Linked DNA regions of Homo sapiens: all the other regions are linked to region 1. The links come from fine-mapping of genetic effects on gene expression. A gene starts in region 1. Each other region holds a variant in brackets. All regions are shown on one strand. Distances are from middle to middle.

Region 1 (8,111 bases):
GTCCTTTATACTAATGATTTTTTTTTCTAAATTCAAGATCAAATCTTGATAATGTCTTGCATTTGTTATGTTTCTACTTTCTTTAAATCTTTAAATCGTCAGCCTTGGTCTTTCACGACATTAGTATTTTTTAAATGTATAGTCCCATCGGTTTAAAGCAGGGTTTCTCAGCCTTGGCACAATTGAACTTTTGGGCTGAAGAACTCCTTCAGCCCGTCAGGCCATCAGATGATTGCAGCCTTGGCCAATATCTGACTGCAACATCAAGAGAGATGATGAGCCAGAAGCACCCAGCTAAGCCACTTCTAAATTCCTAAACCACAGAAGCTATGACAGATAATAAATGATTGTTCCTGTTTTAAGCCACTAAATTTGATGTAATCTGTTACACAGCAACTGATAACTAATATAACAGCCAAGTAAAGCATAGAGAGTTGGAGTGTGGAGTTTCAGAGGAAAGGTGTGGAAGTTTGATAACCTTAAGAATATAGGCTGGGCGTAGTGGCTCACACCTGTAATCCCAATATTTTGGGAGGCCAAATCGGGAGAACAGCTTGAGCCCAGGATGTTTGAGACCAGCCTGGGCAACACAGTGAGACTCTGTCTCTACAAAAACATGTTTTTCTTGTTGTTGTTTGTTTTTTGTTTTTGTTTTTGTTTTTTAATTTGCTGCATGTAGTGGTGCATGCTGTAGTCCCAGCTACTCAGGAGGATGAGCTGGGAGGATCATTTGAGCCCAAGTGTCCAAGGTTGCAGGGAGCGGTGATCACACCACTGCACTCCAGTCCAGGCAACAGAGTGAGACACCGTCTTTAAAAAAAAAAGAAAAGAAAATTAAAGAAGTTCGGGCACGGTGGCTCACGCCTGTAATCCCAGCACTTTGGGAGGCCAAAGCGGGCAGATCACGAGGTCAGGAGATCAAGACCATCCTGGCTAACACAGTGAAACCCCGTCTCTACTAAAAATACAAAAAATTAGCCGGGTGTGGTGGCGGGTGCCTGTAGTCCCAGCTACTCAGGAGGCTGAGTCAGGAGAATGGCGTGAACCCAGGAAGTGGAGCTTGCAGTGAGCCGAGATCGCACCACTGCACTCCAGCCTGGTGACAGAGCTAGACTCCGTCTCAAAGAAAAAAAAAAGAGAGAGAAAATATAGATGGAATTCAAAGCTCTGAGACTAAGGCTGGGCGTGGTGCCTCATGCCTGTAATCCCAGCACTTTGAGAGGCCAAGGCCAGTGGATTTCTTGAGCTCAGGAGTTTGACACCAGCCTGGGCAACATGGTGAAACCGCATCTCTACAAAAAGTACAAAAATTAGCCAGACACGGTGGCTCGTGCCTGTAGGTCCCAGCTACTGGCTGAGGTGGGAGGATCGCCTCAGGCTAAAGCCTGAGAGGTTGAAGCTGTGGTGAATCGTATTCGCACCACTGCATCCCAGCCTGGCTGGGTGACAGCAAGAACCTGTCTCTCAAAAAAAAAAAAAGAAAAAGAAAAAAAAAAGCTATAAGACAGGATGAGGTAATTAAAAATGTGACTGAAAGAGTGAAGGTAGAAATATGAGGATCAAAATACATAGGAGAAAGAATATTTTGTGAATATCTTTCATTTTAACATGCATTTAACTCTCCACCAGGTGGTGTTTTATTTCTAGAACCTTGTTAGGCTTGGTATCTAACATGAATTCAACACATGTTAAATTAATGGGTGAATGAATGAGAACAAAAGTAGAATGGGATTTAGACTGTAGTTAAGGAAAATGAATAAATACATTGAATAGCTATGGCACTATGTATTTAGATGATAGATTGCTGTTTGGATACTAAAAGTACAAAACCATCCCCTTGCCTCTACTCTTTCCCTATTTTAGTGTAAAGAAAAGTTTTGAAGGTTAGGTATGGATACTATATATTCTGGAAAATTTGAAACTTGCAATCCAATTAGTGGTGCCTAAGAACCTTCATTTACATGTGAAAGTAGAATCAAAAATAGAGCCAGAAACCTTTAGTAAAAACTAAAACACTTGTAGTACCTCCCCAGTACACTTCAGCAACAAAGGCCTTGTTTCTGCACTGGCAGTTTGTTCTTATCTTTGCCCCTGCTACCATTCCTGTGCCCCAGATATTTGCATAACTGGCTGCTGCTTATTTTTCAAATCTCAGATCAAATACCATCTTAGAGAGCTCTTTTCAGATCCCCAGTCTAAATAAGCTCACACTATCCTCAAGTCCCTCTATCACATCACCCTGCCTTAACTTTTCTCATGGCACTTCTGGCTGGCTGAAATCTCATTTGTCTTTAACAACTAACTTAAGATTCAACCGTCCTCTAGGATAGAAGTTCCTGTCTGTCTTGCTCACAAGTCTAGAGCAATGCACATAGTGTTTGTTGAATAAATGAATGAATCCTCACTGGCACTGATACGATTTTAAAAATGTTTAATTTGCAGGCCAGGCACGGTGGCTCACACCTGTAATCCCAGCACTCTGGGAGGCCAAGGCTGGCAGATCACTTGAACCCAGGAGTTCAACACCAGCCTGAGCAACATAGTGAGACCCCATTTCTTAAAAATAAATAAAATAAAAATGTTTAGTTTGCATTTCTTGGATTAAGAGTAAAGTTTTTACTTAAGAATGTCTGTGTTTCTTCATTTGATACCCTTTCCATTTCTTCTGTAATTAAAAAAAACCTTCACCCATTTTTCTATTGGGTGTTTTTTTTTTTCTTATCAATTTAAATGAACTTAAGAGGCCAGGCACGGTGGCTCACACCTGTAATCTCAGCACTTTGGGAAGCCAAGGTGGGTGGATCATCTGAGGTCGGGAGTTCAAGACTAGCCTGACCAACATGGAGAAGCCCTGGCTCTACTAAAAATACAAAATTAGCTGGGCATGGTGGCACATGCCTGTAATCCCAAGCTACTCAGGAGGCTGAGGCAGGAGAATCGCTTGAACCCGGGAGGCGGAGGTTGTGGTGAGCTGAGATCGCGCCATTGCACTCCAGCTTGGGCAACAAGAGCGAAACTGCGTCTCAAAAAAATAAAAATAAAAAATAAATGAACTTAAGATACTAACTCTGTCAGGTTTGGGACCAATATTTTTCCCAATGTGTTTTATTGATTTTGTCCCTGTTTCCTTGGGAAGAAGTTCTAAATTATCGAGCAGTCATGTATCAATATTTTCCATAGTGTTTTGTTTAGCTGCAGGCAGCATGGAGTAGCAAGCAGTCCAGCCTGCACTTTGAGGTTAGTTTACTTACAATTTGTGTGACTTCAGAAAAGTAGGCCAATTATTTAGCTTCCAAATCTCATGTTACTCAATTGCAGTTTTCATTTGTAAAATGGGTATACTGGCACCAAATACATCACAGAATCATGAGGATTAAAGGTAATGAAGGATATAAAATGTCCTTGGTAGTGTGCACATTAAGAATGCCCTAAATAAGCATATAAGCATGGTTAACAGCTAAGATGTATTTCGCTATTTTCATGTTGATAATTTGTCTTGGTAACTTTTTTTTTTTTTTTTAAGACAGGGTCTGTTTGTCACCCAGGCTGGAGTGCAGAGGCACGAACATGGCGCACTGCAGCCTGAGCCCGTGATCCTTCTGCCTCAGCCTCCTGTGTAGCTAGGACCACAGTCGCGTGCCACCACGCCCAGCTATTTTTTTTTTTACTTTTTGTAGCGGTGGAGGGGGTCTCATTTTTTTGCCCCAGGCTGGGGCTGGTCTCCAACTCCTGGGCACAAGCCATCCTCCCACCTCTGCCTCCCAAAATGTTTGGATTACAGGTGTGAGCCACTGCGCCCAGTCTTCTCAGTTCAGATATGGCATAAATTTTCTCAAATATTTAAATTATTTAATCCTTAAGGAATTTATTTTGGTGCACCAAACCACTTACCTTAAAGTCAGTTTTGCCTTTTCAGTAAGCGACTGGCCTCCAGAATGGCCTCGAAGCGCCAGCCTACTGGCAAGGAGCTGACATGCAGCCCGGAGTCAGCTCCCTGCGGATGGGCTGATCCTCGCGCAGGCTGTGCGGGGCGGGCGCGCACTGGACCCGCCCCATCCCCGCCCCCTCCCCGCCCCCTTGCTCTGCCAGTCCAGCCCTAGGTTCTCCTGAATCCCTGCGGTCCCAGCGTCGCTCCGGACGCTGCCAACCTGTTCTCCACCGTCGCTCGACTTCCACCTCTAAGACTCCCACGTGAGTGCGGGCGTCTCCCAGTTCCTGGGCCGGTGAGGCAGCAGCCCAGCAACCGTACCGCCCGGGGGAAAAGGAAAGTCCTGGCCTGGAGGATCCGAGCCCGCAGGCTCCGTGCGGCAGGTCCCGCCGGGCCCTGCTGCTGGAAGTGCTCCGTGGGCTTCGCGCAGCTGGGGATCGGCAGGTCGCGGGGAGGCTCCCGAGCTAGGTCGCGGCCTGGCTGGACCCAGGCACCGCCGACGCCTCCTGGAGGAGCCCGGGCTCGGGGCTCAGCTCCGGGCCGCAAGGCCCCGCCTGGGCCTGGCGCTCGCGCACCTGGGGCTGGGGATAGGCTGGGATCCGCCCTCCTTCCCTGGGCGGAGAGGGTCGGGCTTGTGGCCCAGAGAAGGGTGACAGGTCCCGAAATCGCTGCAGCACCACGCGGGGAGAGGGATAGGGTACCCACACCACGTCCGTGGTGAAGCCAATGCCCAGTTGAGCGGGGGGCGCGCGCTTCAGAGCACCCGAGAAGCTGGCAGATGGAGTGGGAAGAGGTGACTCTTGATTTCAGGGTAAACAAGGAGATTGTGAGAAGTAGTCTAGCAGCTCCCGTTTCTCCTCCAGCTTCAAGATTCTTCTGTCTAGTGTTTTGGGTTCCCTACACCAGGATTGTGGAGGAAGCGCACGGCCAGAACCCGTTGGGACCGAGCAGATCAACCATTTATGTTGCACTTAATGATCATCTGCACTTTTTGCATATCCTTAGTGTTGTCTTTGTGAGGCCACCTCTATAATGGATAATCAAATAGAGGGAAGGGCGGGATTGAATATTGTGACTTGATTTCAATGTCCCACAACAACTGTGCTAGACAGTTTTTATATGTTAGGTTATTTAACGCTCCCAAGCACTTATTAAAGTGATGTTACTCTGTTTCATTCTCCAGGAAACTCAGGTTGAATAATTCATCAAATTACACAACTGGTAAGTGGTGGCATTAGGGTTTGGAATTCAAGTCCGTATGGTTTTAGGGCACAGGCTTTATTGCTTAATGTAAAAGAACATTATTCTTTGGGATAAGCCAGATACCTAGGTTTCAAATCTATGCTATGAGGGCTGTTAGCTGTATGACCTTGGGCAGGATACTTCACCTTTTAGGGCCTGTTTCTGCATTTGTGAAATAGAGATAAAATGTCACAAGGTTGCTATGAGAATTAAATTAGATCCTACTTGTAAAACATTTAGCAAAGTGCTTGACACGTAGTTAGTGGTAAGCTATATATAGCCACATATATCCTGATGTCATTAATAAGGGTCAGCAAACTAGCTCTCTGTGTGTGCTGCCAGCCAGAGCCAAACAGAACTTGTGCAAGCCTAGAACATAGGTAGAGGGAAACAGCAAAGGATGGGAAACGAAAAGGGAACTGAAAACAGATGACATATATAATGGCAATTATAGTGACAACAATAGATGTCTCAGTCATTGATCTGTGGTACCCAGGGCCACTTTTTGCCTTTGCGAGAATTATTAATAGGTCAGTTCCTTTTGGCTGATGAATTGGAAAAATACATCCCACTCTGGGCTGAAAAATTTCAAACTCTGGGACTGGATCATTTTGAGACTCTAGATGTGAGGTGGAGCTGAATTTTAGGACCCCACAGACCAAAAGGTGCCTGGCACAAACCCCACAATGAAGTCTGCAGTTCTCTTTCAGGATTTCTTCTTTCAGGTCTAGTCCCTGAAGAATAGGAAGGGAGAGGAGGCTCCAGGACGGGAGAAACAGAAGGAGTGTTTGCCATTAAGGGTTGCATAATGACTGGACACCTCTTCTAATTTTACCTATAACTGTGAACACTTTATAGACAATGGTCTTCATTTTCATATAAGTTTATGGCAACCTATTATACATTTTAAAATATTTTATTTTCTATGCTCTTTATGATGGTATCACTGCTGCCCTGGGTATTTCCCTTGCAGCATCTGTTTCGGTACCTAGTTCATATTGTACTCCAACACCTATCAATTCTTTTATTTACTTATTTATTTATTTTATAATAAAGATGAGATCTTACTATGTTGCCCAGGCTGGTCTTGAACTCCTGGGCTCAAGTGATCCTCCTGCCTTGGCCTCCCAAAGTGCTGGGGTTACAGGTGTGAGCCACCACACCCGGCCCTATCAATTCTTGGTATGGCTTATCCATTGTTTCCTTTGCCTTCTTTATTTTTTGGTACTATCACTGGGCTTTTTTTCTTACTATTGTTAGAGTTTTCTCTTTTTTCCTCCCTTTCAAATGTTCTTTAGTCAGTGATTTATTATGCTAGAAAGTATGCCTGTTAGCAAAACTATAAAAGTTAATGTTAGATGTGAAAAATGATTATATGTCATTTGACCTTCAAAGATTCATAATGCCACCACTGCTCACCAAAGCATGATATTTCAGGTGGATCTTTTAGCAAGACTCAATGTCACTTCCATTGGTGGTACTCAGTGACCTGCAGGAGTCCTAACTAGAGCATTCCTTTACTGTACCCACCATTACCTTCAGCCTACAATCTAGCTTCCTTCCCACCAATATTTTCCCTTCTTGTTCTTGCTTGTGAGTGGGAATCGTATTGGGGTTTTTTTTGGAGAGACTATTTATTCTTTTAATATAACAGCTTAGCAGTATGCAATCATAACTTTTTAAAAGACATTAAAATTCATCAGTATTATGGTCACATTTACCAATATGAATTAGGTGGATAGCATATTAGTAAGTTTCCTCATAAAAAAAAAGAAGGAAATACTACATACTCATTTTAGTAAATCATTTTGAAATGTCTCTTGCAAATGGTTGTATTATATCTAGTTCCTGTGAAAATTACCAGAGCAACTGTGTGGTTTTCTGGACACATTGTTATCCGGCTATTTCACCTTCCCTGGCTTTTAGTTTACCACGCCTTTAGACTTCAAGGTGACGGTCAGTACCTGTTAAAAGAGGTACCTGCAACTGTAAAGAGGAACTTACTTATCTGTCCACATTTTCATGTTTATGTGTCAGAATTTTTTAAAAAGAAGTGAAAATTAAGACAAATACTTCCTGATGGTATTGTCAAAACAATTTTATAAAATATGTAAAATTGCACCCCACCTTCAGTACTTCTTGTTCTCCTTCTTTATTGTTCCCTGTAGCACTTACTGCCACCTAATATACTATATATGTTACTTATTTGTCTTCATTGTTGTCTGCCTTCCTGCAGTGTAACTAACCTCTCCCTGATGGGGATGGTGGCCTGCTTTGTTTATTGTTGGCTCTCCAGCACCTTAGAACAGTGCCTGACACACAGTAGGCAATCTATAATATTTGTTCAATAAGTGTTGAATGAATTAATAGTACTATTAAACTGCTCATGATTGGGAAATATAAAGGGATTTGCCCTAATTAAAAACAGCTGAAACGATGTGTTAAGCAACCAGGACATGAATATTCTTGAAATCAGGAAATGTATAAACATCTCAACAGCCTTTGCCCAATATACAAACTTTTTAAACCTTGAGAACCACATGGTTGTGGTTGTTGCTGCTTTAAACTGAAGGCATTTTTAGATTATTTGTTCACCGTGAACTAGAAAGGAGCACACGGTGATGAATTGTGAAGTGCCCATCTTGCCCAATTAAATATACATGCTCCCCTACAAAGAAAAGGAAAGGAGTCAAATTTTGGAAAGCATGCATTTAGAGTCGGGGCATGGTGGACACCAGGGCAGGTGAGAGGTTCTGGTGGCTGGTTCAACATCTGGGAAATTCCAGAAGGGGGGAAATTCTTAATGTGGTCTGAGGGGAATGAGAACCCCAGGAGACTTCAGTCTTCACAGGTTGGTGTACCTTAATATCAGATCCAGCCTGCCTGCTGCACAGCTGGCCAGCAGCTTTACTTAGTCCTTATAATGGAAAACTTTTCAACT
Region 2 (8,111 bases), 41 kb after region 1:
AACATTGATTCTCTTTGGCAGTTAATATAGGTAATCTTTGTTTTATCTTCATACTTTTTGAAATGAGCTCATATGGATTTTATTGTGGGCAAAGATAAAGCTTTTTATTTTGGAAAAAACAGTATTTTATTAAATATTTTTTTCTTTTTAGTGATAAGATGTTTCCAGCTTTTGGTTTTGGCGCTCAGATACCTCCTCAGTGGCAGGTAAGAGGAAATCTCTATTTTAAAGCTTTGCCTCCTAGAAAAGCAGCCCAGCCCTCATCAGTCCTTTGTCCATCTTTGACAGGTATCACATGAATTTCCAATGAACTTCAACCCATCCAATCCCTACTGCAATGGTAAGTTAAAAAATAAACATGAAGACTTCAAATGGAAAGGCTCACTAGTCTTTGTTATTTTGTTCTTTGTTCTTTGTTTTTTTTCTTGTGATTAAAACTACTCAAATTTCATCTCTAGGTTTCATTTTCTTACATATTTAACTTTCTGTTGTATAAGGTAGAAGAATTGCACCAGGTTGGTGGTTAGGGTGGTAATGGTAATTACGGGGCAAATCAGTATTATGATGATGAAGGTGGTAAGCTAAATCCTCCTACCTTAAGAACTTTAATAGGACAAAAACATTCTCAATCTTTGGAGTAGATCAGTAAAAATATCATATATTAAAAGTATTTTTACATATAAATTTATTTAAAAACAAACCTTCAATAAAATGAGTAATTTGATATACAGATCTTTTGAAGCTTTTTTCAGAGTGGTAGTCACTCTCTACGAAGAGAAAAGTATCCAGCATCTAATACTTGTTGCTCACACAGTATTCTATAAGTAGCTGGGATGGGCAAAAGGAACAAAGAATTGATCTTCTATAGCAGCTTTCCTCTGTGTAGAGAGCAGGAGGCAAATATTTGTCTTTCATTTCACTTTTTTCTTTTATTTATTTAAAAAAATAGAGACAAGGTCTCGCTATGTTGGCCAGGCTGGTCTTGAACTCTTGACCTCAAGCTATCTTCCTGCCTTCTGCCTTGGCCTCCCAAAGTACTGGGATTAGAGGCGTGAGCCACCATGCCCAGCCACGTTTTACTTTTTTCCTTATACCTCAAGTATCCAAGTGCTGCTTCTTTTTTTTACCACATTGAGCAATCAGCCAGAAATGCCAGCTCTTCCACTAAATTATATATCAGACTAAAGAGTTTGGAGAAGGCAAGGTAGGTGTGGGAGCAGAGGCATAATTTAAAATTCTAGACAATACTCTAATTTTCTGCAAAGGGTCCTTTTGACAATTACAAATGTATAGCTTTCTAACAGAAGAAAATGTTTTTTCCTTTTCTTCCTAAACAATATTCATAAGGTGGAAGAGCATGAACAATTTTTGTGGCGGCCGTTTGCAATATGGTTTTGTTCTTTTCCCCAGAACACTTTTTCCATACTAATTCAGTGTTCTTTGAGGCACTTTCAGTGACTGGTTGTGACCTCTTTTATTCCCTAGCCATTTGAAACTGGGAATGTTATTCTTTTTAAGAAATATGCTTCATTTTTATAATGAAAGTGGATAATCTTTAGAATTTGTTGTAATTAGCTTTCATTTATTGTAAATGAATATGGATGACATATCATATGATAATTCATTTTAGAAGTTCAGTCACTCTGTGAGTAATGTAAGCCCATCCTTGGGCTGTTCACCAAGTGGTTTACACTCTGGAAAAAGCATCAGTTTGGTTTTAAACAAAGGAGATACTATACAGCAAAAAGCTCAGAGCCTTATTTTAAGGCAAGGAAGTTTAATCCCCTTTTCCTAACTAATCATTGAATCTAGTTGCCTTAGAAATAATATGCCTTAGAAATAACTTGTTACTTTGATGCATAGAAAGGGTTTTGGCATAATTCAGTTTTAATTAAGGAATTGAAAGCTCTTGATATTTGTGAAGAAATTATTATTATTATTAATTTTTTTTTTTTTTTTTTCGAGACGAAGTCTTGCTCTTTTCCCCCAGGCTGGAGTGCAATGGCACGATCTTGGCTCACTGCAACCTCCTCCTCCCGGGTTCAAGCAATTCTCCTGCCACAGCCCGCCCCCCCCCCCCCCCCGCCCACAACCGAGTAGCTGGGATTACAGGCGCCTGCCACCACGCTCGGCTAATTTTTGTATTTTTAGTAAAGACAGGGTTTCACCATGTTGGCCAGGCTGGTCTAGAACTGCTGACCTCTTGTGATCTACCTGCCTCTGCCTCCCGAAGTGCTGAGATTATAGGCATGAGCCACCGTGCCCAGCCCTAAATGAATTATTTATACCTTTGTTACTACTGGACTGACTACTAGTAACATGGACCTTCTGCATGTAAAATCACCCCTGCCTATGAATTAGTTATGTTCTCAAAGGTTGTTCATAAGACTACCTGTTCCTAAATTCAAAGAAACTAAGAGGAGTTTATTGGAACTCTTACATTTTAAGAGAAGAGAGTTGGTTTCCTGAAGCTTTCAAGCCAAGTATGGTCATGCACTAAAAATGACATTTTAGTCAAGGACAGACCACATGTATGACAGTAGGCCCATAAGATTTTAATATTTTATTTTTACTGTAAAGACATAGAAAAGGTACAGTTGCTATAATTGCCTACATTATTCAGCATAGCAATATGCAGTACAGGTTTTTAACCTAGGAGTAATAGGCTATACCATCTAGGTTTGTGTAAGTATACTCTATGATGTTCATACGATGATGAAATCACCTAACGATGCATTTCTCAGAATTTATCCCCATTGGTAAGTGACACATGACTGTATATGCTTCTCCTTTTTGTTGATCTGTGTTCTCTTAGACATTTTAAAAGCAAGAGACCTGTTTTGATTTACATTAAGTTTTTTTTTTTTTTTTTGTGGCAAGTATCTGTGATGATCTCAGCAAGTATTGTTGGAAATTCTTTAGAATTTCTGTTATCCTGTCTGCATCCTAAATGCTGTGATATTAAGGGCAGATTCAACAGGTGCTTGTGTGGGATACAAGTTTCATCAGCAGTGCTTTGACCAGCAATGTCAGTCAGCTTTCACTGGGTTGTGCTGTTGTAATAAACAATCTCTAAATCTCAGTGGCTTTAATGACAACAGTTTATTTCTTGCTCATTTTACATGCAGCTAGGCTGGAGTTCTCTCCATGTTTCTTATATTGGGACTCAGGCTGAAGGAACAGCCTTATCTGGGATGTGCTGCTCCTACGGCAGAGGAAAGGAGCAAGAGAGCTGGAAAAAACAGGCAGTAGTTCTTAAGACATCTCCTTAGGTATGGGTGTCACATGCATTGGTCAAAGCTAATCAAATGGTCCTGTCCAACTTTCTATTATAAAATGCACCAGCAGGTCTAGGGGTAGTACCCCTAAACAAACACATCAGTGCTTCTGCAGCAAAATGGATAAGTAACCTGGAAGTGAATATTTGGAACTAATGCAGTCTGTGATACAATGATTAACCTTTAACTTATTGAATAAACACTTGTATCAGTTAATTAACTAGAATTAATATTAGGTTTATCGCCATCTGGTATTTTTGTAGAACCTCTGGCCATATATGCAAATGATTTTTCATTTTATTAATAACTCTTTCTTACCTTTCATCATCAGTTGTATGATGTGAAACCTTTTTCATGGTTTTCTATCAGAGCCACATTCCCAACATGTATTAAAAATTAAGCACAGATGTAACAGTCCTACCGTAGACTAATAAGTAATTTGACTGAGATGAAAGTAAATCCCTTCTATTGGGGGAGGACAGAGCTTATAGGTTTTTGCAATGGATCATACCTATGGAGTTATGTAATACATAGCTTAGAGGAACTACTGCTTATAGAACTTTTGACTATTTAAAGCACTATATGTTGATACATATAATCAAATTAGCCAGTATTGTGAATAAACACATTGTGCTTGAGAATTTTTAGTACTGTTTTTTATTTGTTTGTTTGTTCTAGGAATCCAAGGCATTGTAGAGGCGTATCGGTCTTGTCTTCCTCAGATAAAACTCTATGGACCAACTAATTTTTCTCCAATCATAAATCACGTGGCCAGGTTTGCTGCTGCAGCCACGCAACAGCAGACAGCTTCTGTAAGTGCTCTATGGCCAGGGAATGGGAAGAATGTGGATTGGTAGCAGCTCCTGGTGCCATTTTTCTATGTTTTTGGTTTGTCATAATACAAAGTCAGGGCAAGATACAATAACACAGTCATTCTTGGTTTGGGAGTAACTTTTGTTGTTGTTATACTAGTGATCGTTAAAAATAAGACAACAGCAAAACAACACTTGGCATTCATGAGTCTTTTATCCTTGGAATTAACTTTCTTAGATAGGTTCTACCAAAAAAAAAAAAATGCCTATCATCTACCTTTTTGAAGTAGACATAACAAATTAAGCTTAAGGAAAGTTACCACATCAGATGCTGTTGCAAGATTTCTTATTGTACTAAAGATATTTGAATGAGGTAACCATTACCTATTGGACCGTGGATACCAAATTTCTCTTAGCCTCAGCATATTCAGAAGTAAGTTAGGGGAAACTACCTCATACTGTTGTTGAAAAGGTTAGATAATTCATATAAAGTACACAATGCCTGGGTCAGAGTAAACACTCAACATATGTTAACTAATATTGTAAATCTTATTCCTATTCTAGACTTAAATGGCCCAAAAGATGGAGTCACTACTTGATGTAACATTTTACTGCTCTCTGAAAAGGTTTATCTTAGGTGACACAATCTGGGGGATGATTTCATCACTTAAACCATATCTATTTTTTTGTGTGTATTTTAGCTTCTAAAATTTTTGTATTCTAATATTCTAATTCTAATAATTTTTGTATTTATTTGATCTTCTGAGAATGAAGTTTCCACTTGCCTCCTTGATAGATACTTTGACATATTTAATACTTGAGTTAAAACTGTTTATTCCTAGCCTTACTGAAAGGTTAATCTTTGACATTTAGATGTCCTGCTTCCATATATTTTGCCAACCCTATTTTGTGGTCTGCTGC[G/A]CTTTTAATGAACCTGCAGTTTTTGTAAGAGTCAATTTCCTTGTCATCAGAGAAGCTTAGAATATTTTATGTGGTGGTAGCTAGGGTAGAGACTGGCAAGGAAAATGAACAAGAAAGACTGGATGACTCATCAAGCCAGAGATGCCATTAGCCATTGCTTGACTTGCTCAGGGGACATGTTTTCTTTTTCTGGCAGCAATATTTTGTGCTTTTGATTATTACTGATGGTGTGATCACAGACCTTGATGAAACCAGACAAGCTATAGTTAATGCCTCCAGGCTGCCTATGTCCATCATAATTGTTGGAGTTGGAGGTGCTGACTTCAGCGCCATGGAGTTTCTGGATGGTGATGGTGGAAGTCTCCGCTCCCCATTGGGCGAAGTGGCCATCAGAGATATTGTCCAGTTTGTGCCTTTCAGACAGTTCCAGAATGTGAGTACCACTCCTCCCTACTCAAACACTAAAGTGACTGAACACAGACCTTTGCCCATCTACAACCAGGCAGTTGATTAGGTGTGCAGGGTTAGAGGATGTGTGAACACTTTCCTTTGTCCATTTGAGAGCTCCGATTTGGTTTAGCAGTGTTGCTTCAGGATGTTCATTATGTGCTTCTTGCAGGCTATATGATAAATTGTTTTAAAATAGTATTGTGACTCTCTCAAGTATTTTATCTTTACCTTTGTAACAACAGGAAAAAACTCTTATGTAACTGTATGCCAAATCCCCCTCAAGCTGGAAGTTTAGTTTGATGAATATCTCTTAGAAGACTATTTTACCCAGTTTACTCCAGTAGTAACATATTGCAGAGCTATAGTACAGAATCACAACCAGGATACTTACAGTGGTATAATCAAGATGCATCATAAGGATCCCCCTGGTTGCCCTTTTATAACCACATCCCCTTCTTTCTACTTCTAGCCCTTCCTTAACCTTGGAAACCACTTACTAATATAGTCTTCATTTCTATAATCTTATCATTTCAAGAATATCATATAAATGGAATCGTACAATATACAACCTTTTGGGATTGGCTTTTTTTCCACTCAGCATCACTCTCGAGAATCACCAAGTTTTTGCAAGTACTTCTTTTTATTGCTGAGTCATATTCCATGGTATGGATGCACCACCATTTGTGTAACCGTTACCCCACAGAAGGACAGCTGGCTGTTGCCTGTTTTTCTCTCTGATACATAAGGCTACTATAAACATTTACGCATGGGTTTTTGTTGTTGTTGTTGTTTGTTTGTTTTGTTTTTGTTTTGAGACAGAGTCTTGCTCTGTCACCCAGGCTGGAGTACAGTACTGCAACTTCCGCCTCCTGGGTTCAAGTGATTCTCATGCCTCAGCCTCCCGAATAGCTGGGATTACAGGTGTGCACCACTATGCCTGGCAATTTTTTTCTATTTTTTAGTAGAGACAGGGTTTTACCACGTTGGCCAGGCTGGTCTCAAACTCCTGGCCTCAAGTGATCCACTCGCCTCGGCCTCCCTAAGTGCTGGGATTACAGCCGTGTGCCACCGCACCCAGCCTATTCATGGATTTTTGAGCAAACATAAGTTTTTATTCCTCTGGGATAAATACCTAGGACTACAGTTGCTGGGTTATACGGTAGTTGCATGTTTAATTCTTAAAGCAGTTGTTAAACTCTTCTAAAGTGGCTATATCATTTAACATTCCCACCAGCAATGGAAGGGGAGGAAGTGGAGTGTTGTGATTATAAAGTAGTAATGTTAGGTAGGGATCTTTGTGGTGTTGAGGCAGTTCTGTATCTCAATTGTGGTGGTGGTTAAACAGATCTATCCAGATGACAAAATTGCATCGAATTATACAGAAACAAACACACACACATACACACACACACACACACAAATGAGTAATGTAAAACTAGAAATCAGAGTAAGTTCTGTGAACTGTATCAGTGTCAGCTGCCTGGTTTTGGTTTTGATACTGTACTATAGTTATGCAAGATGTTACCTTTGGAGGAATCTGGGTGAAGGGTGCATGGTACCTTTCTTTACTGTTTTTGCAACTTCCTATGAATCTATAAATGTTGTAAAAAAAAGTAAAAAAAAATTAATACCAAGTAAGTGAAAGAACCACATTTAAAAGTTATAAAACAACAACAACAAAATCATCAAATGTTAGAATGCTGGCACCGAAAAAGGACTTGACAAATGTTAGCAGGGATAGTAATAGCAATCATAAGTAACATTGGCTAGTTAACTCATTCCATATTTCATGGGCGGTTCCTAAGAAAAGGTACAGGCCTATGAATTAGAATTGCTTCATTTTAGTGGCTGCTGAAGTATCCCTAGTCTTTTATGAAAAAGCCAGGAAAATTCAGTTGCTAATAAAGTCACTTTTATTTTGTTTTTCACAAGGCTCCAAAAGAAGCACTTGCTCAGTGTGTCTTGGCAGAGATTCCCCAGCAGGTGGTGGGCTACTTCAATACATACAAACTCCTTCCTCCCAAGAACCCAGCCACGAAACAACAGAAGCAGTGACCACTTCAACAGAATTCTTTTGTGTTATGTGGAGCAATGCCATCTCTCACCCCAAATCGTGTATCTGTCATTCTACGTACTTTTTACCCCCAGCATTTATGATGTAAATCTCTTTCTCTATGGATTATATCTGTTTAAAGCATTCTTTCTAGGTTATTTTGGGGGGACAGTGCCAAGTCCATCTTTGCCCAGTCAATTCAGTGATTGATAGCAATTTACATTAATTGCAGTAAAGCTCTTTGGATTAGAAATTAGTGTGGGGAAAGCTTATTCTGTTGTTGTTTTTGTTTACTTTCATATGATGAAAATGCTGTGTTTAAGTGTTTGTCAATAGGAAGAATGGAAAACTGTTGGGATGATGTGGTTTGCAGGTTGCTGTGCCTGATTCACAGTGTATGTTGTATAAGCCAATGTCCATACCTGATTATGAGAGCTTCTTAAATTATATGATATCAAATTTGTTCCTGTAACTCTGTATACAGTGCTTTTCTGCAAGGTAAAAATAACCTGTCTATGCATCTGATTTTTGCTACAGTTTAGACACTGTGGTTTACAAAACAGCATGCACTCAACTTGGGACTTTATGAAAAGTACT
Region 3 (8,111 bases), 37 kb before region 1:
TCCATTTTTAGTCATCTCCTTACTTAGTTCTTTACTTACACAGGTTAGCTCCAAGATATATCATTTAACTACTTTATGTCAGGAACCCACAACATCCTAACCACTGTCACCACACCTTCTCTTCAAGATTTCAACTTAGAATCAATCCAATTTGAAAATCCATCCCCCTGTATATCCCCTATAGATCCATTTCCCCTCCTCTACAAATATTTCTTTGCTTGATCTCCCATCCCAATGTGATCAATCCTTAGAAATCTCATACCATTTTGCATTGCTGGTATCCAGGATGCAAAATAATCTCTTTGCCTGAGCCATGGAGATTTATTTCTACCACTCTTATGGCGATTATTTATTTTACCCTATTATTTGTGAAGAAGCCTAGAATATTTTATATTTACACGGTTAAATGGTCACAACATTTAAAAAGCCGTAGAACAGTTATAGTTCATATATTAAGTTTAGAATTAAAAGAAAAGGCAATGTTTATTAGCTATTTCATAAATCTTCTCTGAAAAGTTCTCAATTCTTCTCACTGAAACTTGTAAGCAACTGAGCAGCTTCTGTCTGTATCTAAAATGGAAAAATACATGTTATAAGTAAACAGGAGAGCTAAGAGACTAACTTGTGAAATTTAAGTTTATAAAGTGGGGTTTCTAAGAGTTTCCAAAAACCAGATAGGACATTATAACAATAAAATGTCTTGACAGTGACCAGATGAGACTCTCAGCTCTTCCACTTTAGTACACATCCCATGACTTTTATGTTTTAGAAATGTTAACTCGATCTGCCATGTGTGTCAAACAGGAATAATTCTGCATTGTAGCAGGCAACCCGTAACATCCACCTGGTGATAGTAACTAAATTATTTCCTATATAGAAATATAAATGTCAATCAATTTACACTTGAAATGAACACACTTGTTTTCAACAATATTATGCATTTAGAAAATTATGCTTTTAAAGAAGTTCTTAATTCACCATTTAATAGTGCCTCAAAACCTTTCTGCCTTACTTTATGGGAGATGTTTTACCTGTTTATCCTCCTCTGTGTGTGCTGGATAGTCCTTGGCTTTCATTAGCCAGAAAGCAGCAAGCTTTTTGTTGTGTAGTTTCAAGTATGTCTTTCCTAAAAGAAGTAAGTTTTTGCTGTAGAAGTTTGGATCCACTGCACATAAGAAAGAAAAAATGATCTCAGAGGAAACAGTGTTGCTTTTATTTTTAAAGGTTTGTTTCTGAGGTCTAAATTTCAATAAATTTGTGTGGTCAATAAGTGATTAGACTAATGGGAATTCTCTTTTGTTCAACTGTTTATATCTCAAACAAATATTTGTAAAATAATAATTACCAATGAATAAACATCTACAAATGTGCTAGGCACTGCATTATACACATTTCTCATTTTCACAACTTTGTAAGTAGGTATCTCCATTTTATAGATGAGAAGCTGAAGCTCCCGATAGAATGTATGCTATTTGAGGACAGCAATACTCTTTTTAATCTCTTTAGTTCCCTATGGTACCCCACGTGCCTACAACAGTGTGTGAAACATAACATACATTCAGTGTACATCGGCTGAATAAGTGAATGAAATGATGATGACATATATATATTTGATCAACATTTACTGGATGTCAGCTATACTTAAACATAGAGGATGAAACAAAACCTCTGTTTTTTTCAACTTTATAATGAAGAGAGAAACATGAACACAACTAAATGTAATATAAAAATGAAAGGAATGCTTTACTAGATATACAAACTTTGAACTGCTACAAGAAACCAAAAAAAAAAGTGGAGAACATTCTTGGCTGAAAGAAAAGCATAAACAGAAAGCCTATGAATGAAAACATGGAATTATCTCACCAACTTAATTCTTCACAAAGTGTCCCCCTAACAATCTGAGATCCTCTGTATTCAAAGCATACTTTTTCCTGTATACAATTAATGATTAACTCCATTTGCTCCTTAACCAAAATTGTTTTACTTCTTTTATTTGAGCAGATTTGTGTGATGCCATGTTGATATACTTAAGTTGTCCTGGGGTTAAATATATTCGTATATTCAATCATCCGATCATTCATCTATTTACTCAGTCATTCAACAGATTTGCCAAGCATTGTGCCAAGTAATGAGTGTGCAATTGTGAGCCAGAAAAGACAAAGTCCACATCTTCTCAGAATGTACAGTCTTACACATGTAAATGTTCATAGTATTGAGTGATAAGTATCACTGGAAAAATAAAAGATACTAAGGGCATCAGAGGAGCCTCTGAACTGAATATAGGCCAGAAAGAAATAAGGTAAGGTCACTCAAGAATGACTGAAGTTACCAGGGATTATTTTAGCTCCATGAGGGTAGGACCATGTTTTTCTCAACACCCCCAACCCTTAAGTCTCTAAGGTCCTATATTTTTACTTTGTAATTAACTTTTAAATCTGTTAAAAAAAGTCATCCCTAGATTCATATTCATGATATGTGAAACAGTATGATCAAGAGAGGGTATCAGTGAAGGTAATAATGAATAAATCAGAATTGATGAATTACAGAGATAAAACATTCAGATAAAATTCTGTAGAAGATAACTGTTATCATGAAATGAACAAGTCCATTATGTGTGGGATCTCAAATTTAATAAACATGGTATGTCTTCTCCTGATTAAGTTTTATAGAATATATTTCAATGGTTTTTATGGTCTATTTGGTATCATATGCTTATGTCTCTTATCTCCCCCACTTGGTGTATGAATATTAAAAAGGATAAATTTAGGATGGGCTGGTGGCAGTTTCATAGGACTAGTCATTTTTTCAAAACAAACATAACCCGAAACTCTTTTTCACAATATCTGCAATAGAACTAGCCTGGCTGAATAGCAGAATTCCCATTTAAATGCCTCTAATGAGATGCATAATCTTTTTTTGTTTTTTTCAGACAAGTCTCACTCTGTGGCCCAGGCTGTAGTGCAGTGGTGCAATCACAGCTCATTGTAGCCTGGAACTCCTGGGCTCAAGTGACCTTCCTGCCTCAGCCTCCTGAGTAGCTGGGACTACAGGTGTGTGCTACCACACCTGGCTAATTTTTATTTTTATTTTTTGGTAGAGATGAGGTCTCGCTATGTTGCCCAGGCTGGTCTCAAACTCCTGGGTTCAAGTGATCCTTCTGCCTTGGCCTTCCAAAGTGCTGGGATTACAAGTGTTAGCCACCACATCTGGCCAATATGTGCAGTCTTGAATAAGACAATTACCATGTCAGAGACTGCTCTCACAAAGGAAGCAGAATTACATCAAATGATAGACATTCCAGAACTGCAGCTCTAAGTTCAATAGCAGCCTATTTCTCATTCAGGTGATCTTTACTGAATAAAGACTTTAAAAATTGTTTTACAGTATCTAGCACAAAAATAAGTATAACAGAATAAACAACTGCTTTAGACATTGCTATTATAGTATATATTCAGCATTCATACAATTTTAACTATATTAATATGTGTAATCAAAAATACCTTACCTTGTTCTGCCCTGTGAAAGTAGCCTAAGGCCTGTCAAAAACACAAAGAGCCCAAACATAATAAAAAAGATTAAAGAAGACAATATTAAAAAAGCATTGTCTCAAAGATCTACTGCTATATTATATTTAAGTCAGGAAGTAAATCATCTTAAAATAATGGTCACTTCTTCAACAGTGAGAGTTAACACCCAAAGTGAACGTAACACTTCAATCATCAAGATTACAATATATGGACTACTTCTGGTAATAACTTGGTTGCTGTTTAGAACTTGTACCAAACTAACATCATGTGCAGAAAGGAAAGAACATTATCACGTGTAACTCAGCTATTTTGACAGTTCTCTTAAATCATAACTAGTGATTTTTAGTAAAAACAAAATATAATCAAAAGCTGAATTTATTCGTTGTACTAGTGAATTTTTAAGAGTCCATTATTATTGAAATTCCTACATACAATGTTAAGTCTGAAACTCTTTTTGTCCTACTTAAGCTACTGTTTTTGTAATGCATTCTCTAATGACATTTGATTTCTAGAAACATAACTAATTTGATAAAGTAGAGCTGACTATATTTTTTGTCCTTAAAATGACCTGTCTTAAAAAAAAAAAAAAAGAACCAGGTCTCACTCTGTTGCCCAGGCTGGAATGCTGTAGCGC[A/C]ATCACTGTTTATTGCAGCCTTGACCTCCCAGGCTCAAGTGATCCTTCTCCCTCAGCTTAGCTGAGTGACTGGGACTACAGGCACAGGCCACCACACCTGGCTAATTTTTGTATTTTTTTTGCAGAGGTTTTGCCACGTTGCCCAGGCTGGTCTCAAACTCCCAGGCTCAACTGATCCACCAACCTTGGCCTTCCAAAATGCTGGCATTACAGGCATGAGCCACCGTGTCCAGCAAATGGGCATTATTTTAATAATACCATTATAAAATATTGGTGCATTATTTTAATAATATTTCTCAACTGTGTGTAAAGAATACAACTAAGTATTTTTTACATCAATTTCTACACTATAGCTTCCCAGAAAGAAAAAAAAGCTCCTTGTTATAATGTAAATAATACAAGTACAGCTTTTTCGATTGCCTGTTTTCTTACTCTGAAAAGCTTGTGATGAGTAAACCCAAAGTTTAACCAGAAATTCCTCTCAAATCTTATTTTTAACAAGAAAAGCAAAAGGCCTTGAAAATATGAGAGAATATGAACCTTTCATATGCTTTTTAAAATAGAAGTTATAATGAGTGTTCTTCTTTTATCAACTTAAGCATCTGCTTTACTTTTCTGTTATTGTGTGTAATACAGCTAAAACATGCTGGGTAACAGATGCTGTATTTCTTGTTCTATTTTATGACTTCAATATAGTTTAGATTTCAAACAGAAAATGAAGGTAGATTTTAGCCACGAGCCATTTTAGATGACAGTATTCCAGAATTACCAGCCACTCACCTAACGGGGAAAAAGAAAACCACTCACCAGTCAAGGATAATAAGTGTTAAGCCTTGTGATAACACAGTTGAATTGGATCATTAGAAATTGCTCAAGTCCCTCACTGAATCAGAGCTCCACATGTGTGAACACATGGTAGAATGGCGCTGTGGTTAAGAAATCCGTACTAACTTAACAAAGGACATCATACTACCTTCTCATAGGTGGAACTAGGAGGAGTTGCAAACAGCATTTTAGCAATTCTTCTTTGATACCAAGGCATTTCGGCAAATGTATAGCACCTACAGGGAAATAAAACAATTTTATACATTCAAATTGTACCTTCTTTTCTCTTAAAGTTAACTAAGCATCTTAATACTATAAAAGGAATCTTCTACTGTATGTTTAAACAACTTGTGCTTTACATGATATCTACTAGGTAATCCAGAGATTGACATAGTGATCCTTTAGCTGGGGGGTGTATTTTGTGATTAAATATAAATAGTAAGCAGTCATACTAATAACAGTAATATAATATACATCTACCACTGAGTGCATTGTGCCAGGTAGTGGGTTGATTCTCTCATTTATTCCTTGTAACAATTATATATGAGATAGGATAATTTCCCCTATTTTTCTTATAAGAAAAACTCAGAGAAGTTAAACCTTACACAAGAAAAATGACAAAGCTAAACATCAAATGTATAAATAACAGCAACCAACAACTTAAATCTATTTTTAAAGCAGCAAAGCAAATGATTAACCTCCAAAGATCTTTACAACTTTCAGAAATAAGTAGGAAAGAAAGTGTTGCATCTTTGACTAGGGTCTGAAGTCCTTAAGGCAGAAATTGCTATTTCATTTGGGTTTGCTTACTAGCATCTGACTTAGTGACTGCCCCTCAATTATCATTAATCCTCAGTGAATGAGTGTTAGCTTAATATGTCCTTTATCCTGAAGAATATATTTCTCTTTTAAAAGAGTTTGATACAGGACAGTTTACACTGGTACCCTTCTTAGATGGCAGTAAATATTCAGCTCTGCAGGCTATACTCAAAAGAGTGTCCCATCTATCTCAAAACAGACTCTTAAACCATCAAGTACGTAACACTTTGATAAAGCCTCATACCAGCAAAATAATAATCTACAGTGGACATAAGATCACATAAAAATAGAAAGATACTGAAAATCAGATTATATGGTTCCTCAGATTAATCAAGACTGTATCTGACACACTTTGAAGATACAAAGACCCTCTTGGGGCATTCTACTGTTTTACTATAGTTACATTAATCTAATTTCATTTAGCATGGTAAATAAGAATAGTCTTTTCAGTCTGTACATGTTTCTAAATGACCTGAATAACAATGTTTAACATGGTCATAATCAAATTTAGTATGTTCTAACAATATATATACAAGGGCTAGTTAATGGATTTAGCACTCTAAGCTCTGTCAGATAATATTTTAAAATATTTAATATCTTTTATATATGCAAAAGAAGATATTTATACATACTACAAAATATCACACTAAATACTACTGAAATATTTAAAGAAATTTTCTTACCAAATACCCATAAGGTGAATTGAAGTAGCATCTTTAGGGTTCAGTTCAATTGCTTTCTAACAAGAAATGAGAAAAATAAATCATATTTGTTTTCTAAACACCAATAAGTGCTTTACTGTGTTTGCTGAAGAAGCCATGATTTTTTAAAAAATGCAACTGTGTGTTTCAGTTCTCCCATTATAATATCAACTTTCTTCCTCCTGATTCTTTGATTAAATTCATTTCAAAACACTATTAATGACTTATACTAATGTTACTATTTTGTATGGTTCAGACATTTATAGTAAGTGTCTATCAAGATGAGAAAAAACATGAAATACATAAATGGATTAATTTTGCAAATTAATCTTGCAAATTAATCTATAGCTCTTAATGTTTCTTCCAAATTAAAGGAAAAATGGATAAGGAAGTACTTTCTTGGCAAACTGTAGATGAATACTGAATAAAAGTCATTCTTTCCTAAAGAAGAAAAGTGCATTTTAGTTTTTTAGAAAAAATGTAATTTTAGAAAGTCTCTTCTATGCAGATTTTAGAAAGTCTTTTCTATTTTTAGAAAGTCTTCTTGTATGCAGATTTTGTTCAACTTCCCCATCTGTACTTACCAAAGGAAAAATAAACAGTTTATAGAATATTAATAGAATAATTATGTGCAATGTAAAATATGTTGAATCTCCCTAATTTATATTTACTATGTGAATATAAACTACAGAATAAAGAAACTGTTCCTCCTTTTATCCATTATTTTGTTGAAAACAACTAAAGAAATCTTACAGATTAATGTTCATATTAAAAGGACTCTTTTTGAAAAAATTAAGATTTCCTAGTTTATGCTTTTCTATAAACCCACACTTTTGCTTTCAGTTTAGTAATGTGTGAGGTACACATTTTCAAATATTTGTAATGGTTAAGAGCATGGTCTCTGAAACCAGACTGCCAGGATTCAAGTCACAGCTTAATGACCTTGAACTGGTTGCAAGATCTATATTCTTACCACAACTGAGTTTTTTCTCTTTTATGGAAAAGTCATGTACTTAACTCATAAGGTTGTGGTAAAAAATAAATAAGTATCTTAACATGTTTATATGCAACTTATGCTCTAAGCAACCTTTCTCAATTGGGAGTTCCACTAAAAATTAAGCCCTACAAAAAAATTGTGTAAGTAACTATTTTTTTCTATTTCCTAAGAATGATACAGAAATACTGTAGTCCCATTCTAGATGCATAGGAAGGAAGTTAATTCATCACAATGGATGCCTGGGGGGATCAGGGTTTAATTAATTTTCCTTTTTTTTTTTTTTTTTTTTTGCCTTTGCCAAAATAAGGTTTTATTTTGAAAGTCATTTGAAAAACACTGAGGAAGGAAGGAGAAGACCTAAGACCCAATGGATGTAGGTTCCAAATTTGGATTCTTGCTGGCCCCACCAATGGTCTCTGTCAGGCCAAGAAGGTTCTGCTTTCTTTGGTAATTCCTATTTTTTTAGCTTCCTGGAGAAGAGATCTTTTCCCACAAGCCATCTTCATTTTTTTTGTAGAGTAGGGCTTTATTTCCAGGAAACAGTGTGTTAGTTGGAGCAGTATTTTTTTTTAAAAACATCAAGGTAGATCTAATATGTTCAACAAAGT
Region 4 (8,111 bases), 51 kb after region 1:
AGAGATTTACAACTGTTCATTATAGTGGTGCCTTAGGCAATCTTTCCAAAGTAAATTCAGGGCCCCATTGCTACTTATGCCATATTTGGACATACTTTTTTTTTCTTCAATTTTGTAAACTTCCTGGAAAGCTGTCTTCACTAAGTATCCCCTAGTCTCTATATATGTGGTTAGTAGTCATGGAAATGACACATAAAGTACGCCAGAAGTTTGATGGAACGTGTTAGAAACTGTTTTGTGCTTTTATGGATGTCATACTTGACAATACATGTGTAAGTTACTAATATATGAATTGATGCTAAATATATCTTACATTTGAATTCCTTTTGGATAAAGTTATTTCTTGATGTGACAGAGTAGTGTGTTTTCATTTTTATTCTTTACATGTGACCAAAACAATAGAAAAGTTAAAAATAAAATATAGTGTTTTAGGTGGCCTTTGACTTCATATTTTACTGAATTAAACAATTTGGGGGATATTATTTTATGGGATTTATTTGTTTAAAAGATATTGAGTGGGTCCAAGATACTCTTCTGGGTACAGTAAAGGAAAGATTCTTAGCTTATAGCTAGAATGGCCTGAGATTATCAATCATGTTAAGAAGGATAGTGTAACCACCTAATTTTAAAAAAAATGTTTTAATTGCTTTTGTCATGGGCATTGGGCAGGACTTTGCCAGTGGTAACCAAGACAGCCACGATTGCTGCCTTTGTAGAAATAATGGTCTAGTGGGGGAGAGAAAACATTGAGCAAGTAATTATAGAGATGTGAGATCTGTGCGTGAAACAACATACAGTAGAGAGAGACCTAACCCATCTGAGAGGCAAGGAGCACTTCCCTGAGGATGTGCCATGTAAGCTAAGACCTGAAAGTTAGCTAGGTGAAGAAGGTTAAAAGCACTTATGAAGCTGTCAGGCCAACAGCAAGTATAGAGTTGAATGTTCTAGGAGTGGACAGAAGTTTGAGTTTGCTGAAATATAAAGTATAAGAGGGAAAGTGGTAAAAGAAATGAGGTGGAGTGGTTGGTGGTGTTTACATCCTGAGGGCCTTTTGGGGCAGGTAAGGGAGTTCAGACTGAGGCTTAGGGTAATGGGATGCCACTAAATTGATTTAAGCAAATGAATGATGTGATTATATTTGTGCATTTGAAAAACCAGAGGACCATACTTTTTAGGGCAGACAGATGAGTTCAGAAGCCCACAGAGTTCCACATGGAACCCTGTGACCAAATGTGGGTCTAGTCGCAATGGCTTTGCCTTGGTGAAGGCCAGATGGCAGAGCTGATAGTGGTCACCTTCTGGCAGACACTCAGCTGTTTGGTCACATACTTTCTAAGTGTCTGATTCTAGGTCTGTTTCCAAATTCTGAGCTTTTCCTGCCTCACTATCAAATTGTCTGGTAGACCCGTATCTTGTTGGTTCCTTAATGGTGCAGAGGCTGGTTCAGACCTGGTGATAATATGTCTTCAGGAATGCCAAACCCTTGCATGTAGCAAGACCATCACCCTTGTCACTTGTCACCAAATAACATCACTTCCTGATCATCACTACATTTGGCCAGATTCTCCAGAAAAACCACAGTAGTTTGAAATGTCCATACAGAATTACACTTTGGCTTGGCTGTTGATTCCTTCCTCCAAAATGATGGAAAGTATTATTATAAGCAGAATTGTGACTTCTTACTGCTTGGGAAAGGAGAGCTATCTCTGGTCTTTCATCAGCAGATGCTTACAAAGCATTTATTGGTGCTCACAAAGCACCAAGTTTTATAGCAGCACCTGGTCTTCTAGGACTGGAATCAGAAGAATTTCAAGGATGGGGAGCTTTAAGGAGTTCTCAGAGAAAAGTCTGAGTAGGAAATAATTTGCTTTTTTCAACCATCCCTTCCTTTCAGTAAGAAGTATTCAATTTTTCTTTGAACAAATATTTATTGGGTAGTCTATTACTGGCAATCAACAGGGGAATTCAAACAGAGTAAAAAAATTCTTGCTGACTTCAAAGCTTATGATCTAATATGGAAAAGGAGACAGTATATATGTTAAACAGAACAAGAGTGAGCAAGGTGAGGGACTCTGCTGTGTTGGAGTAAGACTGGCCCTTCTTGTGCCTTCAGGCATCCATGGTGATGAGGAAAGAGGGTCCCTTGAATGCTGCTTCTGGAAAGATGCTTCTCCTGCCCATCCTGCTATCATTCATTGCTCTCCACTACCATCCTGTGATCACTGTTCATGCCAGTCCTCACAAGAAGCCCAGACCATTAGTTTCCAACCCCTGTATTCTGACTCCATATCCCACTTCTCTCCAGTGCCCCATACCCTTCCACTCTGCCCTCAAGAACTGGGTCGTTCATTAGCAGAAATTTCTGATATCAATGTTTTTTTCTGAATAGTCCCTTCACCTTTTAATTCTAATTAAAACCTGCCTCTCTTGAAGAACATTGCTTCCTCTGCTGCCCTCTCAAGTGATGGTAATTTCCTCTTCCTGATCTACCCCTGGGCTTGGAGGCTGCGTAGGTACCCTCCTTGATCCTCCCTTCTGCTTTCAGAGAGCTTTTCCCTCCTCTTTAAAACCTCTGGCTTTGAATCTTGCATCATTAGATTAGATCACTCTCTATCCCTCCTTATAATAATACTGCTCTCTATTCAACCTCAGCCCACATTCTGAAGGTCATATGCTAGACCTTATCGTTATTGATTTAAAAAAAACCCTCCCTGATCGCATTTTCAAGTATTCAGTTTTTCAATAACAACCACTTTTGCAGTTCACTCCCTTTAGTACCACAACTCTAACAAGTCTCCCTCCATGCCTTCAATCACAAATCCTACCAACTTCTCAGTGTCTCGATGGTCTGGCCCCTCCTGCTCTTTCCTTTTCTAAACTTCTTTTCTACTAATCTCTGCATTGTCATTCACTCCAACCACATGGGCTTTCTTGCTCTTACTTGAATATGCCTGGCATATTCCTGGCTCAGGGCTTTTGCACTTGCCGTTGCCCCTTCTTGAAAACCCAGCCTCCCCTAGCCACTTGGGAACCTTGCTCCCTCACCTCCTTCAGGTCTTTATTTAAGCATCACTCAGTGAGGCCTTTTCTGATCACCTTATTTAAAAGTGTACCTCTTTCCCTAGTACTTTTTATTTTTCTTCTCTGTTTATATTTATTTTGGCCAGGTGCAGTGGCCTACGCCTGTAATCATGGCACTTTGGGAGGCTAAGTTGGGTGGATTGGTTAAGCTCAGGAGTTTGAGACCAGCCTGGGCAACATGGTGAAAACCCATTGTATTACTCCGTTCTCATGCTGCTAGTAAAGGCATACCCAAGACTGGGTAATTTATAAAGGAAAGAGGTGTAATTGACTCACAGTTCAGCATAGCTGGGGAGGTTTCAGGAAACTTACAATCATGGCGGAAGAGGAAGCAAACACATCCTTCTTCACCTGGTGGCAGCACGGAGAAGTGCAGAGCAAAGTTGGGGAAAAGCCCCTTACTAAATCATCAGATCTCATGAGAACTGACTCACTATCACCAGAACAGCATGGAGGTAACCACCCCCATGATTCAATTACCTCCCATCTGGGTCCCTCCCATGACATGTGGGGATTATGGGAACTACAATTCAAGATGGGGACACAGCCAAACCAAATCAGCTGTCTCAATACAAAAATTAGCTGGGTGTGGTAGAGCACACTTTTGGTTCCAGCTACGCAGGAGGCTGTGAGGTAGGAGGATTGCTGGAGCCTGGGAAGTTGTTTTTTTGTTGTTGATGTTGTTTTGTTTTTTTTTCTTGTCCTCCCTCACCCACTAGAATGTCAGTTCCAAGAAATCTGGGATTTTTGCCTGTTTGTTCACTGCTTTCTCCTCAGAGCCTAGAAGATACCTTGGCATTTAGAAGGCATTCCCTAAATAAACACTGAAAGAATGAATGAATGAAGTATATACTAGAGAATATATAAAGATAGAAGTTAGTTTATATGAGAAAATATTGAAGCTTAGAATGGGAAGATTTTCTATTCAATGTGGAGAGTCGTCAGGGCAGTGGGAAGATCTTGGAGAGCTTCATGGATGGTTTGACATTTCATCTGGGATTTAAAGGTTTTATGGGGCTTTATAATGTAGAGAAAGCGGAAGAGCCTTTCAGCAAAGAAATTGGCATTGTCAGTGGCATGGATTAAGAAAGCGTGGGTTGAGAAACATTGTTAGTATAGGGAGATGAATGTATGAATGAACCGTTTTGTTTCATAACTAAATCTCTTTATTCACTTTTACAAATGTGATATTGAAATTCAAACAATATTGATCTTCCACATATTTTATTTCTTTATTTTTTATAGAGACAGGGTCTCAAACTCCTGGCCTCAAGTGATCTGCCTGCCTTAGCCTTCTAAAGTGCTGGGATTACAGGCATAAGCCACCATGCCCGACCACACATATTTCTATTTTAATGAAATCTGTGGTTAGTCCTTTTCTGAAGGACATGCTAAATCTGAATTTTTCCTCTCAGATTTGGAATATAAATATGGTCCTAACATGGCAGACTTGATCATCATTTGACCCCATAAAATCTTGGCAAATGTACTTGTTTATTTGAAAAAGGCCTGCTTTAGGTGGATGCTACTTTTATCAAGCCTTTCCATGGGCTTCATGTTTGAAAAGCATGTGTTATCTTTTGACCTTGAACTCTGCTTTACTCTGGCGTAGCCCTGGACAAAGGGTCTTATTACAAAACACGAATGTTTTGTAAAATGGGACTTGGGGTAGGAATCGTTAAATTCCCTTGCAAGTCTAAGATTCTGGTGTAAACAACAGAGCTTGATTTATTCAAAGCTGGATGCAAGAAGCTGTATCA[C/T]GAGCCCAGTTAATAACCCTTAGCATACACTATATGCTGAATTCTGTATTGCTTAGGATTCCCAGCAGAGAGGATTCTCATAAATTTGTGGCAGAATCATTGTGTGCATTGGGCAGAGATGACTAGAGGTGCAAACGGACAGTAAGGGGGCTGTGACCTTTCAGGTATCACTCCCTTTCCTCATCCGAGGGAGTTATTATCTAGAAATGTCAGGTTGCATTGCTTAATGATGCACATTTATTTGACCTTTGCACCGTCACTTCTAGTCACAAAAGTTATAGTAGGAAAAATACAGTCAGTCATAAAAACCCATAGAGAAAAACATCAAATTTTACTACAGCGTGTGGGTATGGTACTTAAAATATCAGTTTCAAGTATCTTTGGTCTGATTAGTTATAATAAATTCCAGAACAGCATAATGATTAATTAACACCTTCTAAAGATTTAAAAAATTCCCGTAGGTGGGTAAAGGCATTATTGTAAATATAGAACAGGTCCAAATTACTAAAAGTACAGATTCTTCTCTTATTGGTTTTCTGTGTAGCAATTTTTCATCTAATACAACTGAAATAAAATAGATTTTTATATATCAAGGGTGTTCAATCTTTTGGCTTCCCTGGGTGACATTGGAAGAATTGTCTTAGGCCACACATAAAATAAACTAACACTAATGGTAGCTGATAAGCCAAAAAAAAAAATTTACAAAAAAACTCATAATGTTTTAAGAAAGCTTACAAATTTGTGTTGGGCTGCATTCAAAGTTGTCTGGGCTGCATACGACCTGCAGGCTGCAGGTTCGATAAGCTTATTATATATTATGTTAAGAGGGGACCAAGTTACTCCTTTCCTTTGAGTATACTTAGAGCTTTCGGCCCATTCTAATACTACAATTGGTGAAGTTGTGCAATTCATTTTATTTTTCTTTTTTTAAGTCCTTCTTTGTTTATAGACAGAGTCTCACTGTGTTGCCCAGGCTGGATTGCAGTGGCATGATCTTGGCTCACTGCAACCTCTGCCTCCTGGTTCAAGTAATTCTCCTGCCTCAGCCTCCCAAGTAGCTGGGATTATAGGCACCCGCCACCATACCCAGCTAATTTTATTTATTTATTTATTTATTTATTTATTTATTTATTTATTTATTTTTGAGATGGAGTCTTGCTCTGTCGCCAGGCTGGAGTACAGTGGCGCGATGTCAGCTCACTGCAACCTCTGCCTCCCAAGTTCAAGCGATTCTCCTGCCTCAGCCTCCCGAGTAGCTGGGACTACAGGCATGCACCATCATGCCTGGCTAATTTTTTGTGTTTTAGTAGAGACAGGGGTTTCGCTATGTTGGTCAGCCTGGTTTGGAACTCCTGACCTCAAGTGATCCACCCCCCTCAGCCTCCCAAAGTGCTGGGATTACAGGTGTGAGCCACCGGACCTGGCGTTTTAATTTTTTTTTTTGAGACAGAGTCTCGCTCTGTCACCCAGGCTGGAGTGCAGTGGCACGATCTCAGCTTACTGCAACCTCTGCCTCCCGGGTTCAAGTGATTCTTTTTTCTTGTGTCTCATCCTTCCAAGTAGCTGGGATTACAGGTACATGTTACCACGCCCAGCCAATCTTTTTGTTTCTTTGTTTTTTTAGTAGAGACGGGGTTTCACCATGTTGGGCAGGCTGGTCTCAAATTCCCAAAGTGCTGAGATTACAGGCGTGAGCCACTGCACCTGGATGAAATTGTGCAATTTAAAAGTCATTTCTAGTTCCAAGTTCTCTCTTGTTTAAAGAAAGGTTTTGCTTATTTTTGACGTGGTCCTTGTGTGGGGTTGGCAGATTTAGCAAACAAAAATACAAGATGTCAAGTTAAATTTGAATTTTGGACAAAAATGAATATTTTTTCATATAGGCAAGTCCCAATTATGGCATGGAGCATATCTATACTAAAAAATTATTCAGGCTGGTCATGGTGGCTCACGCCTGTAATCTCAGCACTTTGGGAGGCTGAGGTGAGCAGATCACCTGAGGTCAGGACTTTGAGACCAGCCTGGCCAACATGGTGAAACCCCGTTTCTACTAAAAATACAAAAAGTAGCCAGGCGTGATGGCACACGCCTGTAATCCCAGCTACTCGGGGGGCTGAGACAGGAGAATCGCTTGAACCCGGGAGGTGGAGGTTGCAGTGAGCTGAGATCGTGCCACCGCACTCCAGCCTTGAGCAACAGTGAGACTCCATCTCAAAAAAAAAAAAAAAAAAAAAAAAAAGGATTCATTAACTGAGTGTCCTGTGTTTTATGTGACAATTCTGTTTGATAGATTGAAAAATGGCCAGAATCCTTCCGCTGCCTCTGGATCCACTCCTTTTGCAATGTGACTTTGCTGTCCCCCCATTAAGAAGTGGATTTCATTTCTCTACCCCTTTAATCTAGGCTGGTTTTGTGACTTACTTTGGCTAATAGAATGTGTAGACATAATGATGTGTGAATTCTGAGCCTATGCCTCAAGAGCCTGGCTCACTTCTGCTTTGTCTCCTCTCAGAACCTTGTGCAGTCTCCACACCCAGTGTACCCATTTTCAGGATGACAGACCATGTGGTTAGAAAAAAGCTGTCCCATCTGAGACTGTCCTGAGACTGTTCTACACCAGCCAGCCCCCAGTCAATCCGGCAGCTGACTATAGAGCATGAATTAGCCCAGCTAAGACCAGAAGAACGAGCTCAAATTGGCAATCTATAGAAACCAATAAATGATTCAGGAGCTAATAAATGATTATTTTAACTTACTACATTTTAGTTAGCAAAAGCAAATTAATGTAGTTTGACAATGCAAAATAGAGCTGGGCATTTTTAAGACCAGAGGACAGCTTATAGGTTGTGCTGAGTTTTGGAGGCCACAGATAAAAGTGAAATAGAAGGTGATATTATAATCAATTTTGAGCAAATAACACTTGGAATGGCTTCAGTGAATCAGAGGAAATTGCTTGTTGAAATAAACACTTGTGCCCACAGGGTGAAAAAATTACTTCTTATAGAGATATTGTTTTCCTTCTTTAACTATTTAAGATTTAAAATATAGAACCTCTGCTGAGTGGCTTCTTCCTTCTTTCTCTGCAGATCTTATCATGATACATCTCTTTTAACCAGCCCATGCTGCACTGTATTTCTGGTGATTAATTGTCGAGGTCAGACCTGGGCAGTGAGGAAAGACCTGGTCTGGGAAGAACTTTCATATATAATAAGTCTTCACTTGACATTAACCAATTTTACCATAGGCTGATTAGTATAAACAAGAGTTAAG

Evidence for each region.
Region 2: its variant is fine-mapped to the expression of CPNE3 in nasal epithelium (TOPMed, PIP 0.94).
Region 3: its variant is fine-mapped to the expression of CPNE3 in thyroid (GTEx, PIP above 0.99).
Region 4: its variant is fine-mapped to the expression of CPNE3 in whole blood (INTERVAL, PIP above 0.99).

Annotation. Positions count from the first base shown.
Region 1 is chr8:86,510,351-86,518,461 of GRCh38, forward strand. CPNE3 (copine 3) reads left to right here and starts at 4,085. Exons shown (of 17, transcript NM_003909.5): 1 at 4,085-4,191; 2 at 5,112-5,149. It also overlaps a transcript of RMDN1 not described here. RefSeq lists silencers at 4,054-4,133, 4,254-4,593.
Region 2 is chr8:86,550,895-86,559,005 of GRCh38, forward strand. CPNE3 (copine 3) reads left to right here. Exons shown (of 17, transcript NM_003909.5): 13 at 152-206; 14 at 289-340; 15 at 3,957-4,090; 16 at 5,208-5,444; 17 at 7,394-8,111. The coding sequence ends at 7,516. Among named protein-coding and RNA genes, the nearest start is that of CPNE3, 41 kb to the left of the region's middle. The variant G/A (reference allele first, on the strand shown) is at 5,012.
Region 3 is chr8:86,473,789-86,481,899 of GRCh38, forward strand. RMDN1 (regulator of microtubule dynamics 1) reads right to left here. Exons shown (of 10, transcript NM_016033.3): 6 at 6,489-6,544; 7 at 5,135-5,222; 8 at 3,506-3,536; 9 at 1,032-1,165; 10 at 1-570. The coding sequence ends at 520. It also overlaps the pseudogene NTAN1P2. Among named protein-coding and RNA genes, the nearest start is that of RMDN1, 31 kb to the right of the region's middle. The variant A/C (reference allele first, on the strand shown) is at 4,162.
Region 4 is chr8:86,561,062-86,569,172 of GRCh38, forward strand. It overlaps CPNE3 (copine 3), which reads left to right. Exons shown (of 17, transcript NM_003909.5): 17 at 1-437. Among named protein-coding and RNA genes, the nearest start is that of CPNE3, 51 kb to the left of the region's middle. The variant C/T (reference allele first, on the strand shown) is at 4,842.